2 separate regions of the Homo sapiens genome follow, and region 1 is linked to region 2. The links come from fine-mapping of genetic effects on gene expression. Tissue or cell type: whole blood. Region 2 holds a variant in brackets; the other region holds the start of a gene. All regions are shown on one strand. Distances are from middle to middle.

Region 1 (8,176 bases), 25 kb before region 2:
CGCCACCACCAAATTTCTAATTTCCATACATGCTATGTGCTTCAACTGTAAATAGTTTTCTTTTACAAACTCAGATACCTCTTGGCAGGTTAACACTGTTCAACATACCACTCTGGACAACCACAGCCTCTGCACCCTCTCTACTTTCTTTTTTTTTTTTTTAATTTTTATTTTTTGAGATGGAGTCTTGCTCTGTCACCCAGGCTGGGGTGCAGTGGCACTATCTCGGCTCACTGCAACCACCGCCTCCCAGGTTCAAGCAATTCTCCTGCCTCAGTCTCCCGAGTAGCTGGGATTACAGCCATGCACCACTATGCGTGGCTAATTTTTGTATTTTTAGTAGAAATGCGGTTTCGCCATGTTGCCCAGGCTGGTCTCAACATCAAGTGATCCACCCCCCTCCGCCTCCCAAAAGGCTGGGATTACAGGAGTGTGCCACCACACCTGGTCCACTGCTTTCAAAATAACTATATTTACAAGGGTATTTCCCCCATTTGCATTTCCCACACGTAGGTTTTGAGAAGAGATCAAGAATGCCCTTTACCACATTTTACCTGTCCTTTTTTCCCCTTTCAAACAAACTGGTCTAGGGGCCAAGCACAGAGGCTCAAGCCTGTAATCCCAGCACTTTGGGAGGCCAAGGCAGGCAGATCACTTAAGGTCAGGAGTTTGAGACCAGCCTGGCCAACATGGTAAAACCCAGTCTCTTCTAAAATACAAAAATCAGCCAGGCGTAGTGGTGCATGCGCTCCTCGGAAGGCAAAGGCAGAAGAATCACTTCAACCTGGGAGGCAGAGGGTGCAGTGAGCCGAGATCGCGCCACTGCACTCCAGCAGCCAGGGTGACAGAGCGAGACACCATCTCATTAAAAAAAAAAAAAAAAAAAAAAACAAAAAACCTGATCTGTATCAGTGCAAAGTTTGCCTATGTTGAATCACTGGGTAGCAGAAAACATTTCTTATTTCACAAATGAGACAAACAAGGCTTAAAGAGTGAAAACAAACTGCCTAGGGTCACCCAACCAAGGAGTAAAGAACTGTGACTTGAACCCTGATTCTCTGCCACCAAGCCCAATGAGAAAGGCTTACAACTAGTGGTAGGAAGGATGATTTTCAGTGGTTCTCAACACAAATATGAAAAACAGAAAGGGGATGCAAGTGACTCAAGTTTGGAAAACTGCACACGCCCCTCTGCTATTCTAACTGAAAGATGAAATTAATAGTAAGCAGGGCATTAATCACTGATCTCTTCCTAATTCAGATACTTAATTTTTCTTGTCTTCTTTGATTAGCTCCTCCAATAGAATAATAGAATACTGAATAGAGCCATAACTGATAATAGCTTTATCTTTTTTTTTTTTTTTTTGAGACGAAGTCTCACTCTGTCGCCCAGGCTGGAGTGCAGTGACTTGATCTTGGCTCACTCCAACCTTTGCCTCCCCGGTTCAAGCGATTCTCATGCCTCAGCCTCCCGAATAGCTGGGCCCACCACCATGCCTGGCTAATTTTTCTATTTTTAGTAGAGACAGGGTTTCACCATGTTGGCCAGGCTGGTCTCGAACTCCTGGCCTCAAGTGATCTCCCCATCTCGGCATCCCAAAATGCTACAGGTGTGAGTCACCTCACCCGGCCCGATAGTAGCTTATTCTAAGTTTAATACTGTTCTAAAGTTTCACCGTTAAGTATCATGTTTTACAGATTATTCATGGATGCACTTTTTTTGAGTTTATGGAAATTCCTTCCTATTCCTCACTCAGTAAAAATTTTTTTTAACTCATCTCTGGCCCACTTGTTTCCCTTCTCCATGCTGTTTTCCACCCACCACCCTTCCTTTCTTTCTTTTTTTTTTTTTTTTTTGAGATGGAGTCTTACTCTGTTGCCCAGGCTGGAGTACAGTGGCGCAATCTCCGCACACCACAACCTCTGCCTCCCGGGTTCAAGCAATTCTCCTGCCTCAGCCTCCCGAGTAGCTGGGACTACAGGCACGCGCCACCACGCCCAGCTAATTTTTGTATTTTTAGTAGAGATGGGGTTTCACCATGTTGGCCAGGATGGTCTCGATCTCCTGACCTCGTGATCTGCCCACCTCAGCCTCCCAAAGTGCTGGGATTACAGGCGTGAGCCACCGCGCCCGGCCTCCTTCCTTTCTTGTATTTCAGGTTCCTTCCTACATTCTACGCATCTCAAAGTACTATATCTGCCACTCAAAGTAACCGAAACGCTTTGATATTTTGGGGGTTCTATACCTGTCTGCTGTTTCAGTTCCCTGGACCAAAAAAAAAAAAAAAAAAAAAATCGAAAATTGACAATTGAAAGAAAATCCTAAGGCAAACACTGTTCCAGTCATTACTGAAGACTGCAGAGGTAAATGCAGATTATTTCTTCTCTCCATCTCTTTTGTTTGAGACAGGGTCTTGCTCTGTCGCCCAGGCTGGAATGCAGTGGTGCGACGTGGCTCACTGCAGCCTCGACCTCCCGGGCTCAAGCAGTTCTCCCACCGCAGCCTCCAGAGTAGTACAGGCGCGTAACATCGCTCCCAGCTAATTTTTGAATTTTTTTGTAGAGACAGGGTTTCGCCATCTTGTTCAGGCTGGACTCAAGTAATCCTCCCACCTCGGCCTCCGAAAGTGCTGCGATTACAGGCATGAGCCACCGCGCCCAGCCCTTCTCTATCTCTTAAACACATCCTGAAATGTCCTTTCTTTAAAGTAAAAACTCGGGGAAAAAAAAGAACCCAATAGTTCTAGATGACCATTTACTTTCCGGTATGTTGCCTAGCTCTGAATGAGCCTGGCTTTTTAAGTGGCTGGAAGAAGCTCAAAGTGTTTTTTTTAAGTTTTGAGGGAAGGAGCTGGATCCAGATGTTTATAACTTCGACTCTCTCCTTTGCTAAAATAAAAAGTATTAAAGAGAAAAGCAAAGGAAGAGGGGTAGTATGTGTAAGCAAATAAATTCCACACATGAAAGCTGAAGACACAAGGGAAAACCAACCCTTTAAAGCCCAAGCAAGTTAAGAATTCTCTCCCTCAATTTCTTTCAAAACAAAAGGGCACACACAATCCTTCCCGAAGCAGCAACGCCGGGGGGAGAAGCCAAAATGTTGCATCATACAGAACACTCCGCGCTTGAGAAACGAGAAAGCCAGTAAATGCCCAAGACAGAAAAACACAAGTTGGGAATCTCGGTCTTTTCCGAAGGTCCAAGAGCACCTGCTCTTTGGTAAATTTGTTTAAGATTGCATCGAAAATTAAAGTTTCCGTTTCAGACCAGTGGGGAGCAAATGCTTTTTCAAAAACGCGTTCAAAGAAGTTCGTTTGAAAGCTCATCGGGCGGCGGGCCGCAGTTCGGGCTCCGGGCGGCGGACCGGAGCGCTGGGGAGCGGGTGGGGCCGGGCCCCGGCGCCCGGGCGGGGGGTGGTGACAGGACCCGCGCGCGCCCGGCGCTGGGGCCCCGGGGCAGGCAAGTCCCGCCCGTGGGCTCTTCCCGACCCACCCGGGCGCGGGACGCTGGTCTGGCGTCCGCCGATGCCTACGCGCTGGAGACGGTGGCCGCCGCCCGGGTCCCCAACCCGGACCCCTCGACGGGCCCTCGGAGGCGGGAAGGCGCGGGCGGCCCCCAGACAATGGGCCGGGGGCGCGGGTGCCCGCAGCGGGACGGGTGCTGGCGCCGAGCGGGGGCGCCTCAGGAGAGCCCCGGGACGCCGCTCCCCGCAGCCGGGAGGGAGCCGGGGGATCTGCCGGGCGGGACCGCGAGGCGAGCGCTCACCTTGACGAAGAGCTCGATGAGGGGCTCTTTGTCCTCCTCCTTCAGCCCATTCAGCGGCATCGACAACGCCATGGCCGGCTCGGCTGCGCTCCGCGAACGGCGAGGGCTGCTGCTGCTGCTGCTGCTTCTGCTCCGGGACTGCTCCGGCTGCCGGTTCCCGCCGTGCTGCTCGCTGGACTGTCCGGCGTCGAGCTGGCCACGGCTTCAGCTCCTCAGCACCGCCCCACGCCCCCCGCGCCACTCTGAGCCAGCCGCAGCCCGAGCCGCTTCAAACGGCTGGGAGGGGCGCCGGGGGCGGGGCCTCGGGCTGTAGGCAGGGCCAAGGCGCGGCGCCTCGGGACTCTCCGGGGAAAATAAGGCGGCAGGAGCACGGGGGCGTGGCCTCGAGCGGGGAAGGCGGAGGGACCGCTCCGGAGCCGAAGAAAGGACCTCTGCGGCGCCCCACAGCTGGTAGGGGGCGTGGCCTTGGTGGGCGGTACAAAGCTCAGGCTCTGGCGGGCGGGACCCGGGTACGCCTCTCTAGGGGACTGGTGCGGGGGGGAAAGGAGGGGAGGAATTCCCCAGGGGCCCGAGCCTGACACTGCCTCCCGCCGCAGCGCCTGCGCGTCCTCCGCAGCTGCTGCTGTTGCTGTGCCAGGTGACCTCATGCCTCGGCCGCCCTGGGGAAGCTAGGAGGCGCCTCCTACCCACTCCCCCGCTGCAGCACCCCAGGACTCATCGCCCTTTCCCGCAGCGGCTACCTCCCCAAGTCCCTCTATTACGCGGAGTTGCCTTTTCCAAGACAACTTACTGGAAAGTTTTCATCGCCTGGGGAACACCTTTTTCTTCTGCCTCTGACTTCGTTTTTCCCTTTGACGCTCCTGATCGTTTCGATCTTGGCAGCCAGCATATTCACAAATATATATATATATATATATATTTTTTTTTTTTTTTTTTTTGAGACGGAGTCTGGCTCTATCGCCTAGGCTGGAGTGCAGTGGCGCGATCTCGGCTCACTGCAAACTCTGCCCCGGGTTCACGCCATTCTCCTGCCTCAGCCTCCCAAGTAGCTGGGACTACAGGCACCCGCCACCGCGCCCGGCTAATTTTTGTATTTTTAGTAGAGACGGGGTTTCACCGTGTTAGTCAGGATGGTCTCGATCTCCTGACCTCGTGATCCGCCCGCCTCGGCCTCCCAAAGTGCTGGGATTACAGGCGTGAGCCACCGCGCCGGGCGCATATTCACAAATATTTATGAAACCTTACTGTGTTTCAGGCTCTGAGCTAGCCCTTGGAGAGTAACAACTCCCAAAGCTCAAGATCTTGAACTGCAATCTCAGTGCCTGCAGGCCACTAAGGACTTCCAAGTCGTTGTCCATCTTGTTCCCCACTGCCCACACCCATTTCTTCCCCCCGGCTCACCTGTCAAATTTGAGTGTGCATCAGAATCACCTAGGTGCTACACGCAGCCCCGCTTTTTGTGTTTCCCAGATCCTCTGGGAAAAAGAGAAATCCACATCTTAGCAAGCACCAGGACAATTCTGAAGTAGGTGGTCCGCAAACCAGTTAAACTGCCCTGGGATTTAAGCCCCCGAGGGCAAGAGCTGTGCTTGCCTTGAGATTGTAGGCACCTGGTCCTAGTTTGCTGCTGTTGAGTGCCTGGGGCAAGTTTCACCTCCTCTGGAAACAATTACTTGTGCCCTTTTCTGACTTTCCATAATACTTGACTCACAGCTACTCCTCCCAACTTCCCAGGTTGGGATAAATAGTGAGTTCCAGGAGGCCCAGACATGGGAGGTTTGTCTCCATATCCTCGGTGCCTAGCACATACCAGAATGTTTGAACAAATTGTACGTAGGCATGAAAATACAGTGAAACTTGCAATTTCTTCCTCTGCCAGCCCAAAGTAAGTTGCTCAAATTTTCTCACAGAGGCTCTGTGAAAGAGCCAGTGTATCCCAGTGGTCAGGAACACGTGCTCTGTAGTCTGACTGTTTAAGTTCAAATCTGACAAGGCAGTGTCCTTAAAACCCCTAAGCCTCAGTTTCATTATCTAGAAGTGGGTGGGGCTAATTACTGATTCTTGCCTTACCATATGTGCTGCTCCGTCAGTATGGCTGTTAACTGCATTGAGACTTATTCTGTCCCTACCACCCCTGCAGGCTAGAATGTGGCATCATATTCTACTCTCTCTATGCCCGGCTAGTTCGTTGAAAATAAATAAATAAATTCCAGGAGGCTCCCCTTAGATGGGGGCTTGAACCATGAAAATCCTGAAGTGACTGACTAGACTCTGGACTGAACCGTGTTAATTTTTCATAGAATCATGAACTGAAGCAAAGTTTCCTTCCAGAATCCACCCTCTCTGCCCTACCAAAAAGGAACCAAATGGTGAATCAGTTCAAAGCAGATCTAAGCCAAAAAACAATTCAGCAGAAACTCAATGTACCTGAGAATTGATCAAATTGAGGCCGGGCACAGTGGCTCATGCCTGTAATCCCAACACGTTGGGAGACCGAGGCGAGTGGATCACCTGAGGTCAGGAGTTCGAGACCAGCCTGGCCAGCATGGCGAAACCCCATCTTTACTAAAAATACAAAAATTAGCCGGGTGTGGTGGCACATGCCTGTAATCCTAGCTACTCGGGAGGCTGAGGCAGGAGAATCGCTTGAACCGGGGAGGCAAAGGTGGCTGTGAGCCGAGATCACGCCACTGTACTCCAGCCTGGGCGACAGAGCGAAATCCATCTCAAAAAAAAAGAATTTGAGTTAGAGGCAGCAAATATTCCCGGTGGTGACTTGCCCTTCACAGGCTCCAACTGGCCTCACAGCACCAGGGTATGGAAGGAGGAACAGACCAGGGCCCTTTAGGCTTCATTGACTAAACAGAGATCTTAGCTAGGAGGAAGCCAGGGGCATTCTCCACAGAGCCCTGAGGTGGTGATGATCTCCTGGGCTCCTCCTACCCAACAGGAAGCCCCCCAGGAAGAGGCTCAGACCCAGAGCCTGTGCTTAGACGTAGTCTCAGTCACACCTACAGTTTCCCAAGTTCCGCCCTCATATGGCTCCCATGGATGGGCAGTCAGTCCTGGGAGTGGGTGAAAGGGAAAGAGGATGTTTATGCAGGGGAGGCCCCCTAACCACATAGCAGTCAAGTCTCCTCTTCGAATTTTGAATTGCATGCCTGCTTTACATTCTTTACTCAGGCTTGTTTTTATAGCACACAGAAATCTTTAAGATGGGTGGAGACATGTTGTCTCCTCCCACACACACCCCTCTGACCTCATCTCCTACCATTCTCCCCTGTGCTCTCCACCCCAGCTTCACTGGCCTCCTTTCTAGTCCTTGGATATGCGAAGCACACTGTGGCCTCAGGGCCTTTGCATTTGCTCTTCCCCCTCTCTGGAACATTCTTCCCCCAGAATTTCTGCAACTCCCACTCCCTTACTTCCTTTGGCTCTTTGCTCAAATGTCATCTTCTCAGAGCGCTCTCCCCAAATACCACCCTATGCAACGTTGCAAGTTGCTATCTTTCACTCCACCCTCCACTTTATCTCTCTTCATAACACTTACAACCCTCTGATACATATCTACCTATTTATCTGCTTATTGTCTGTCTTCTCCCACTAGAACATAAATGCCATAAGGGCAGGGATTTTTTGTTTGGTTTTGTTTATGGCTATATTCCTGGCTCAGAGGACAGCTCATGGTACACAATAAAAATTTATGGAGTGGGCCGGGCGCAGTGGCTCACGCCTATAATCCCAGGATTTTGGGAGGCCAAGGCGGATGGATCACCTGAGGTCGGGAGTTCGAGACCAGCCTGACCAACATGGAGAAACCCCGTCTCCACTAAAAATACAAAAAATTAGCCAGGCATGGTGGTGCATGCCTGCAATCCCAGCTACTTGGGAGGCTGAGGCAGGAGAATCGCTTGAACCTGGGAGGCAGAGGTTGCAGTAAGCCGAGATTGCGCCATTGCACTCCAGCCTGGACAACAAGAGCGAAACTCTGTCTCAAAAAAAAAAAAAAATAGCTTATGGAGTGAGTGACTGTACCATGTTTATCCTATGGTTTCATGTACCCCTGACATGACATTTGGATTGTCACGCTCTTCCAGTCTGGGAAGCCAGGTGGTTTGTGTTTATGACTGCCCCTACACAGGGGGTCAGGTTTTCCTCCAGTAAGCCTCCCTTGATGACACTTTCCTCCTCCCACTTCTAACTCTGTGGTGCTGCTCGCTGACTGTCTCAGCCCAAAGTTCTGCAATTTCAGCAGCAGAATGAGCTGCTATGCACATGGACTCTGGGGCCAGACTGCCTGGGTTCCAATCCTGCTTCTGTTATTTACTAACTCAGGATACTTACTTAACCTCTCTGTGCTTCATTTTCTCATCAGTAAAAATGGATCTAAATTAGTACCATTTTCTCGTCTG
Region 2 (8,176 bases):
GTAACTAGTTCTTTAAAGCTGCTCCCATAGCCCCCACCCAAGCTGTCCCAACGGAACCCACCTCTGCCTTTCCCCCAGCCCTCAGTGGCCACCCGTCTCAGCTCCAGGGGTGAATCCCGAGGAATGTAAGCCAATCAGCTCCTTGCATTGTCTTGGTGCTGTGGTTGGTACAGAGGTGACCACATGACCCAGCTCACCCAATCAGACTGAAGGGAAGGATTTAAATGTCTGGCTTAGGGAGCCGGCCTTCTCCTTGCTAAGGGAGCCGGCCTTCTCCTTGCTAAGGAAGACCAGGATACCTCGTCCCTTAGGTGTTGCTGGCAACCGTCTTGTTACCAAAAGGGTAGTTGCCCTTGAGCTGAAGCCAACCTAAAGGGAGGCAGCAGCGGAGACAAAGTTCCTGGGTCCCTGTGCCATCACTGAACCAGCGAATCAATCCATTCCAAGGCCAAGAATCTCCTGGGACTTCCTGTTGGTAAAATAATAGATTTCTTTCCGCGGGGCACAGTGGCTCATGCCTGTAATCCCAGCATTTTCAGAGGCCGAGGCGGGCGGATCACTTGAGGTCAGGAGTTGGAAATCAGCCTGGCCAACATGGCAAAACCCTGTCTCTACCAAAAATACAAAAATTAGCTGGGTGAGGTGGCACACGTCTGTAGTCCCAACTATTTGGGAGGCTGAGACATGAAAATCTCTTACACCCAGGAGGTGGAGGTTGCAGTGAGCCAAGATCCACCACTGCACTCCAGCCTGGGCAACAGAGTGAGACTCCATCTCAAAAAATAATAATAAAAATAATAAATAGGCTGGGCACACTGGCTCACGCCTGTAATCCCAGAACTTTGGGAGGCCGAGGCGGCAGATCACGAGGTCAGGAGTTCGAGACCAGCCTGACCAACATGATGAAACCCCGTCTCTACTAAAAAATACAAAAATTAGCTGGGTGTGGTGGTGTGCGCCTGTAATCCCAACTACTCAGGAGGCTGAAGCAGGAGAATCTCTTGAACCCAGGAGGCAGAGGTTGCAGTCAGCCGAGATCGCACCACTGCACTCCAGCCTGGGCTGGAACAAGACTCCATTTAAAAAAAGAAATCAATTATTAGCCGGGCATGGTGGTGCGCACCTGTAATCCCAGCTACTCGGGAGGCTGAGGCAGGAGAATTGCTTGAACCCAGGAGGCGGAGGTTGCAGTGAGCTGAGATCATGCCAGTGCACTCCAGCCTGGGCGACAAGAGTGAAACTCCATCATAAATTAATTAAAAATAAATTTTATGTTTAAGCCAATTGAGTCGAGTGTTCACACGTAATCACCTTGCACAAACTCACATTTAATTTATTGAGCACTTGGCCCTGTGCAGTGGCTCACGCCTCTAATCCCAGCACTTTGGGAGGCCAAGGCAGGTGAATCACTTGAACTGAAGAGGTCGAGACCAACCTGGGCAACATGGTGAAACCCCATCTCTACAAAAAATACAAAAATTAGCTGGGCATGGTGGCGCACATCCATAGTCTCAGCTACTTGTGGGGCTGAGGTAGGCAGATTGCTTGTGCTGGGAGGTTGAGGCTGTAGTGAGCCGAGATCATGCCACTGCACTCCAGCCTGGGTGATGGGAGTGAGACCCTGCCTCAAAAAAAAAAAAAATAAATAAAAATAAAAAATTGAGTGCTTAACGTCTGTCAGGCACTATTCTGAGAGCTTTATGTGCATAGATTAACACTCACTGCACTGCAGCCTGGGTGACAGAGTGAGACTGTCTCAAAATAAGCTGTATAGCTGGGTGCAGTGACTCATGCCTGTAATCCCAGCATTTTGGGAGGTCAAGGCGGGTGGATCACCTGAGGTCCGGAGTTCAAGACCAGACTGACCCACATGGAGAAACCCCATCTGTATTAAAAATACAAAATTAGCAGGGCGTGATGGCACATGCCTGTAATCCCAGCTACTAGAGAGAATGATGTAGAATTACTTGAACCTAGGAGGCGGAGATTGTGGTGAGCTATCATGCCACTGCATTCCAGCCTGGGCAACAAAAGCGAAACTCCATCTCAAAAAAAAAAAAAAAGGGCCGGGTGCGGTGGCTCACGCCTGTAATCCTGTGTCCAGAATTGGTGGGTTCTTGGTCTCACTGACTTCAAGAATAAAACCACGGACCCTCGCGGTGAGTGTTACAGTTCTCAAAGGCGGCGTGTCTGGAGTTTGTTCCTTTTGATGTTCAGATGTGTTCGGAGTTTCTTCCTTCTGGTGGGTGCACGGTCTCACTGGCTCAGGAGTGAAGCTGCAGACCTTCACGGTGAGTGTTACAGCTCTTAGGGCTCTTAAGGTGGTGCATCTGGAGTTGTTCTTTCCTCCCGGTGGGTTTGGGATCTCGCTGGCTTCAGCAGTGAAGTCACAGACCTTCATGGTGAGTGTTACAACTCATAAAGGCAGTGTGGACCCAAAGAGTGAGCAGTAGCAAGATTTATTGCAAAGAGTGAAAAAACAAAGTCTCCACAGTGTGGAAGGGAACTCCAGCGGGTTACTACTGCTACCTCAGGCAGCCTGCATTTATTCTTACCTGGCCCCACCCACATCCTGCTGATTGGTCCATTTTACAGAGAGCCGATTGGTCCATTTTACAGAGAGCTGATTGGTGCGTTTACAATCCCTGAGCTAGACACAAAAGTTCTCCATGTCCCAGCTATATTAGCTAGATATAAAGTGTCAACACAAAGGTTCTCCAAGTCCCCACCAGAGTAGCTAGATACAGAGTGTCCATTGGTGCATTCACAAACCCTGAGCTAGACACACGGTTCTGATTGGTGTGTTTACAAACCTTGAGCTAGATACAGAGTGTCCATTGGTGTATTTACAATCCCTTAGCTAGACATAAATGTTCTCCAAGTCCCCACCAGACTCAGGAGCCCAGCGGGCTTCACCCAGTGGATCCTGTACCAGGGCCACAGGTGGAGCTGCCTGCCGGTCCCGTGCCGTGTGCCCACACTCCTCAGCCCTCCGGTGGTCGATGGGACTGGGCGCTGTGGAGCAGGGGGCGGAGCTCGTCAGGGAGGCTCGGGCCGCACAGGAGCCCACGGGGGTCGGGGGAGGCTCAGGCATGGTGGGCTGCAGGTCCCGAGCCCTGCGGCGTGGGGAGGCAGCTAAGGCCCAGCGAGAAGTCGAGCACAGCAGCTGCTGGCCCAGGTGCTAAGCCCCTCATTGCCCAGGGCCGGTGGGGCCGGCCGGAGGCTCCCAGTGCGGGGCCCGCCGAGCCCACGCCCACCCGGAACTCGCGCTGGCCGCAAGCACTGCACGCAGCCCGGGTTCCCACCCGCGCCTCTCCCTCCACACCTCCCCGCAAGCTGAGGGAGCCGGCTCTGGGCTTGGCCAGCCCAGAAAGGGGCTCCCACAGTACAGCGGCGGGTTGAAGGGCTCCTCAAGCATGGCCAGAGTGGGCGTCAAGGCCGAGGAGGCGCCAAGAGCCAGTGAGGGCTGGGAGGGCTGCCAGCACACTGTCACCTCTCAATCCCAGCACTTTGGGAGGCCGAGGCGGGTGGATCACCTGAGGTCAGGAGTTCAAGACCAGCCTGATCAACATGGAGAAACCCTGTCTCTACTAAAAATACAAAATTAGCCAGGCATGGTGGCCGGTGCCTATAATCCCAGCTACTCGGGAGGCTGAGGCAGGAGAATCGCTTGAACGTGGGAGGCGGAGGTTGTGGTGAGCTGATATGGCGCCATTGCACTCCAGCCTGGGCAACAAGAGCAAAACTCCGTCTCAAAAAAAAAGAGTCTAGCAAACCTTTCCAGAGACTTCTCTTGGGCCAGCCTTCCCCATGGACTCTTGGCAGGTGGCTTCTTTCTTCAGGCTCTGAGATTTCTCTACATTCATCCTTCCC[G/A]CTGCCTTTCAGGTCTCAAGCCTTCTGCCCTCCTGCCCCATTTCCTTACCCAGAGCCCTCTCTCCTGTCCTCCAGGCCACGGCCAGGAAGAGGGCAGTGCCTTTCGCACCCAAGAAAGTCATCAAAGTATTTGGCCATGCAGAACCTTCATCTCTCCAGCCAAATGCTATGGCCTGGTTTTGTGTGTTTGTTTGTTTTCTGAGACGGAGTGTCGCTCTGTCCCCCAGGCTGGAGCACAGTGGTGCTATCTCCGCTCACCGCAACCTCTGACTCCCTGGTTCAAGTGATTCTCCTACCTCAGCCTCCCGAGTAGCTGGGATTACAGGCACGCGCCACCACGCCCAGATAATTTTTGTATTTTTAGTAGAGGTGGGGTTTCACCAGGTTGGCCAGGCTGGTCTCAATCTCCTGACCTCATGATCCACCTGCCTTGGGCCTCCCAAAGTGCTGGGATTACAGGCGTGAGCCGCCGCGCCCGGCCTGGCTTGGTTTTTAAACTCACATGTGTTTCCTCCCTGGGAGTCTGTGAGGTCCCTGAAGCTCCATGGTGGGTGGATTCTGGCCTGTGGCTCCAGGGCCCGGCCTTATTCCAGTGAGTGTCCAAGGGAGGGAGGATGGAGTTGGCGACCCCTTGCCCTTCCTGTCCTGGTCCCACCTCCCAATGAGTCAGCTTGGAGCCAGGCCTCTTGGCCTTTCCTGTTCTCCTCTCTGGCTCCGGAACAACAGCCGGATGTGAGCTGCGCCCAGGCTGTTTTGGGACTTGGCGGACTGGCAGGTGTTGGCTGACTGTCTCCTGGAGGCCAGGCCCATGACTCGGTTCCCCACATCCCACAGCCGGCCCCTGCTCTCGCCCAGAGGATGGGAGAACCCCATCCCAAGAGATGAGCCATGGATACCAGTGGATGTGTGGGTACTCAGGGTACCCCAACTCCTGAATAGAGGGGACAGGGTCAGAGAAGGCCAGAGGATGAACCCTGAAGCCAGAGGTCTTGGGTTAGAATCCTAGGCATGTTACTTTAACTCTGCCTCAACTGCCTCATCTGTAAAATAACGATGGGGATAATAATAGTCATTCTCTACAAGATTGCTGAAGAGTAAGGCCGGGGGTGGTGGCTCACGCCTGTAATCTCAGCACTTTGGGAGGTCAAGGCGGGCGGATCACCTGAGGTCGGGAGTTTGAGACCAGCCTGACCAACATGGAAAAACCCCGTCTCTACTAAAAATACAAAATTAGCCAGGCGTGGAGGCACATGCCTGTAATCCCAGCTACTCGGGAGGCTAAGGCAGAAGAATTGCTTGAAGCCAGGAGGAGGAGGTTGCAGTGAGCCGAGATTGTGCCATTGCACTCCAGCCTGGGCAACAAGAGCGAAACTCCGTCTCAAAAAAAAAAGATTGCCAAAGAATAAATGCATTTATATCTGTAAAGCACGCAAAGGAGTGCCTAGCACATGAGAAGCACTAAGTTCATGTTTGTTACATGAAAAACATAAATTCAATAAACATTTGCTAAGGGCCCACCATGTGCAGGCCCAGGTCAGGTGCTGGGGACACAGTGAACAAGGTGGACACAGCAGCTGCCCCAAGAAAGGGCATCGGGCATCTCCCGCAGGGGGACCAATTCAGTACATGAAGCGGAGCCTGGGAATCTGTTAGGGCATGGCGCTTACGGTGAAGCTGAAATTTCCATGAACAAGGCTGGGTGCAGTGGCTCATGCCTGTCATCCTCATGCTTTGGAAGGCTGAGGTGGAAGTATCCTTGAGGCAGGAATATCCTTGAGGCCAAGAGTTCAAGACCAGCCTGGGCAACATGGTGAGACCCCTATCTCTACCAAGAAAAATTAAAATCAGCTGGGTGTGGTGGTACATGCCTGTAGTCCTAGCCACTCAGGAGATTGAGGCGGAAAGATTCCTTGAGCCCAGGAGCTATGATTGCACCACTGCATTCCATCCTGGTGACAGAGCCCAACCCTGTCTCTATTTTAAAAAAAGTTCCGGCCAGGCACGGTGGCTCACGCCTGTAATCCCAGCACTTTAGGAAGTCGAGGTAGGCAGATCACTTGAGGTGAGGAGTTCAAGACCAGCCTGGCCAACATGCTGAAACCCCATCTCTGCTAAAAATACAAAAAGTAGCCAGGTGTGGTGGCGCACACCTGTAATCTCAGCTACTTGGGAGGCTGAGGCATGAGAATCGCTTGAACCTGGGAAGCGGAGGTTACAGTGAGCTGAGATCATGCCACTGCACTCCAGCCTGGGCAACAGAGTGAAACTCCGTCTCAAGAAGAAAAAAAAAAATTCCCTGAACAAATAGGGAAACTGACGCCTTGGGGAGGGGCAGGGAGCTGCTTGGGATCACTAAAAATTGGGGATCGCTTTTTTGTGAGGGGCACATAGCTGCTATTGTATTATTGTTTTTTGATTGTTCCCAATTTACCAGGGAGGAACTGAGCCAAGAAGTTAAGTAACTTAGTTGAGATCACATGACTAGGAAATGGTAGAGCCAAGATTGAACCCCAGCCAGCCTGGCTAACCAAACAGTAGCATGAGGCTGATCATTAACTGTCTTTTACTGAATATCCACAACATACTTGCAAAATACATCTTCTTCCTCACACCACCCGATGAAGGAGGTACCATTAAGGTCCGCATTTCACAGATGAAGGAACTGAGCCCCAGGGAGGTTGTGTGATTTACCCAGGGTCTCACTTCTAGGCAGTGGCAGAGTTGAGGTTTCTCGACACAGGGTTGTCCTGCTGCCCAAGACCTCTTAATTCCCAGCTGGCTTTCCCTGGCCAGGCTAGAGCCAGTGCCATCCCCCATCCATCCCATCCCTTCTAGGGTGTACGTGCAGAGAATGCAGAAGTCATTGAACTACGGTCTGGACAAATGGGCATTATGAGCAGGGTCCTTCTGCCAAGCAGCCACAGCCAAGTGGATGCTGTGCTAGACTAGCCACCTCCCCCCTCCCTCCAGCTTGACCCTAAAGTCCAGGATTCTTTGGAAAGATTAGACTCCACTAGGCTGAGAACACCGCGGTGCCAACAGCAAGGGCTTCAGCTCTACTGTACCCTCCACACACATTATGTGAAGGTGAAATTTCACAAGTACCCCAAGAAGAAGGTTCTAGTACTATCCTCATTTTTCAAGAGGCAGGACAGTAGAGGGGTAAGAGCATTGACTTGGAGCAGAGGCTGCCTGGGTTCCATCCCCTACCCGGCCACTAGGTCTGTCCAAGGCTCTGTCCTAGTCATGGCCTTGCTTACTTAACCTCTCTGGACCTCAGTCTCTTTATCACTGGGAAGAGGACGAGACTGGTACCTACACCTCATAGGGAGGATAAAAGAACTAGAAGTATTAGGATATGGGCACAGCACATAATGAGCACCATGTGTTTGCCATTTTATGGAAACTGAAGCTCAAGAAAGTTATATGACTTGGCCTACGTCACATGAGTACCACATGGAAGAGCCAGGACTTGAACTCAAGTCTGTCCAACTCCAAAGCAGCCCTCTCCTCACATACTCAGGGCATTGAGCTCCTTGATGGATGAGTAGAATTTTTAGATTGAAGGAAGGTGGACAATTCAGGTTGTTCACAGAGATGGGAATGGGCTGCATAGCAACTAGTAGTAGTTCCAGGGTGAGTGCCACATCCCCACAGCTCTAACATCCAGTCTGATGGATATTCAAGTCACTGGACACAGGATTCCGAGCGCCTACTCTGTGCCAGGTCAGGTACTAGGTATTGAGAAAGGAGAAAGAAAGCACACACAGTTCATGAAGCTCAACAATCCAGTGGGGGAGATGGATGGGCAAGTGAATCACTATGATACAGTGAAATAATGGCTCTATAGTGCTGAAGACAGGTGCAAATAGTAAATTCTCCCTGGGAAGCAGTTGAGGAAGGCTCCATGGAGGAACTGGCATTTGAACTGGACCTTTAAGAACTGAGCAAGGCCTGGCACGGTGGCTCACGCCTGTAATCCTAGCGCTTTGGGAGGCCGAGGCGAGTGGATCACCTGAGTGATTCAAGTTTGAGACCACCCTCACCAGCATGGTGAAACCCCATCTCTACCAAAAATACAAAAATTAGCCGGGCATGGTGGTGCATGCCTGTAGTCCCAGCTACTTGGGAGGCTGAGGCAGGAAAATCACTTGAACCCGGGAAGCGGAGGTTGTAGTGAGCTGAGATTGCGCCACTGCACTCCAACCTGGGCGACAGAGCAAGACTCTGTCTCAAAAAAAAAAAAGCTGAGCAAGTTCAAAACAGGAAAAGTGAATCCACCCCAGACAGAGGGCCTAGCAGG

What was found. PIP is the estimated chance that this variant, and not a neighbour inherited with it, causes the effect.
Region 1: CLIC4 starts here. The variant in region 2 is fine-mapped to the expression of CLIC4 in whole blood (INTERVAL, PIP 0.92).

What each region holds. Positions count from the first base shown.
Region 1 is chr1:24,741,214-24,749,389 of GRCh38, reverse strand. It overlaps CLIC4 (chloride intracellular channel 4), which reads right to left and starts at 3,943. Exons shown (of 6, transcript NM_013943.3): 1 at 3,765-3,943. The coding sequence starts at 3,836. RefSeq lists silencers at 3,372-3,531, 3,632-4,341 and enhancers at 3,423-4,028, 4,029-4,634, 5,847-6,452.
Region 2 is chr1:24,716,666-24,724,841 of GRCh38, reverse strand. No RefSeq gene overlaps it. Among named protein-coding and RNA genes, the nearest start is that of CLIC4, 25 kb to the left of the region's middle. RefSeq lists enhancers at 1-722, 4,430-4,724. The variant G/A (reference allele first, on the strand shown) is at 3,874.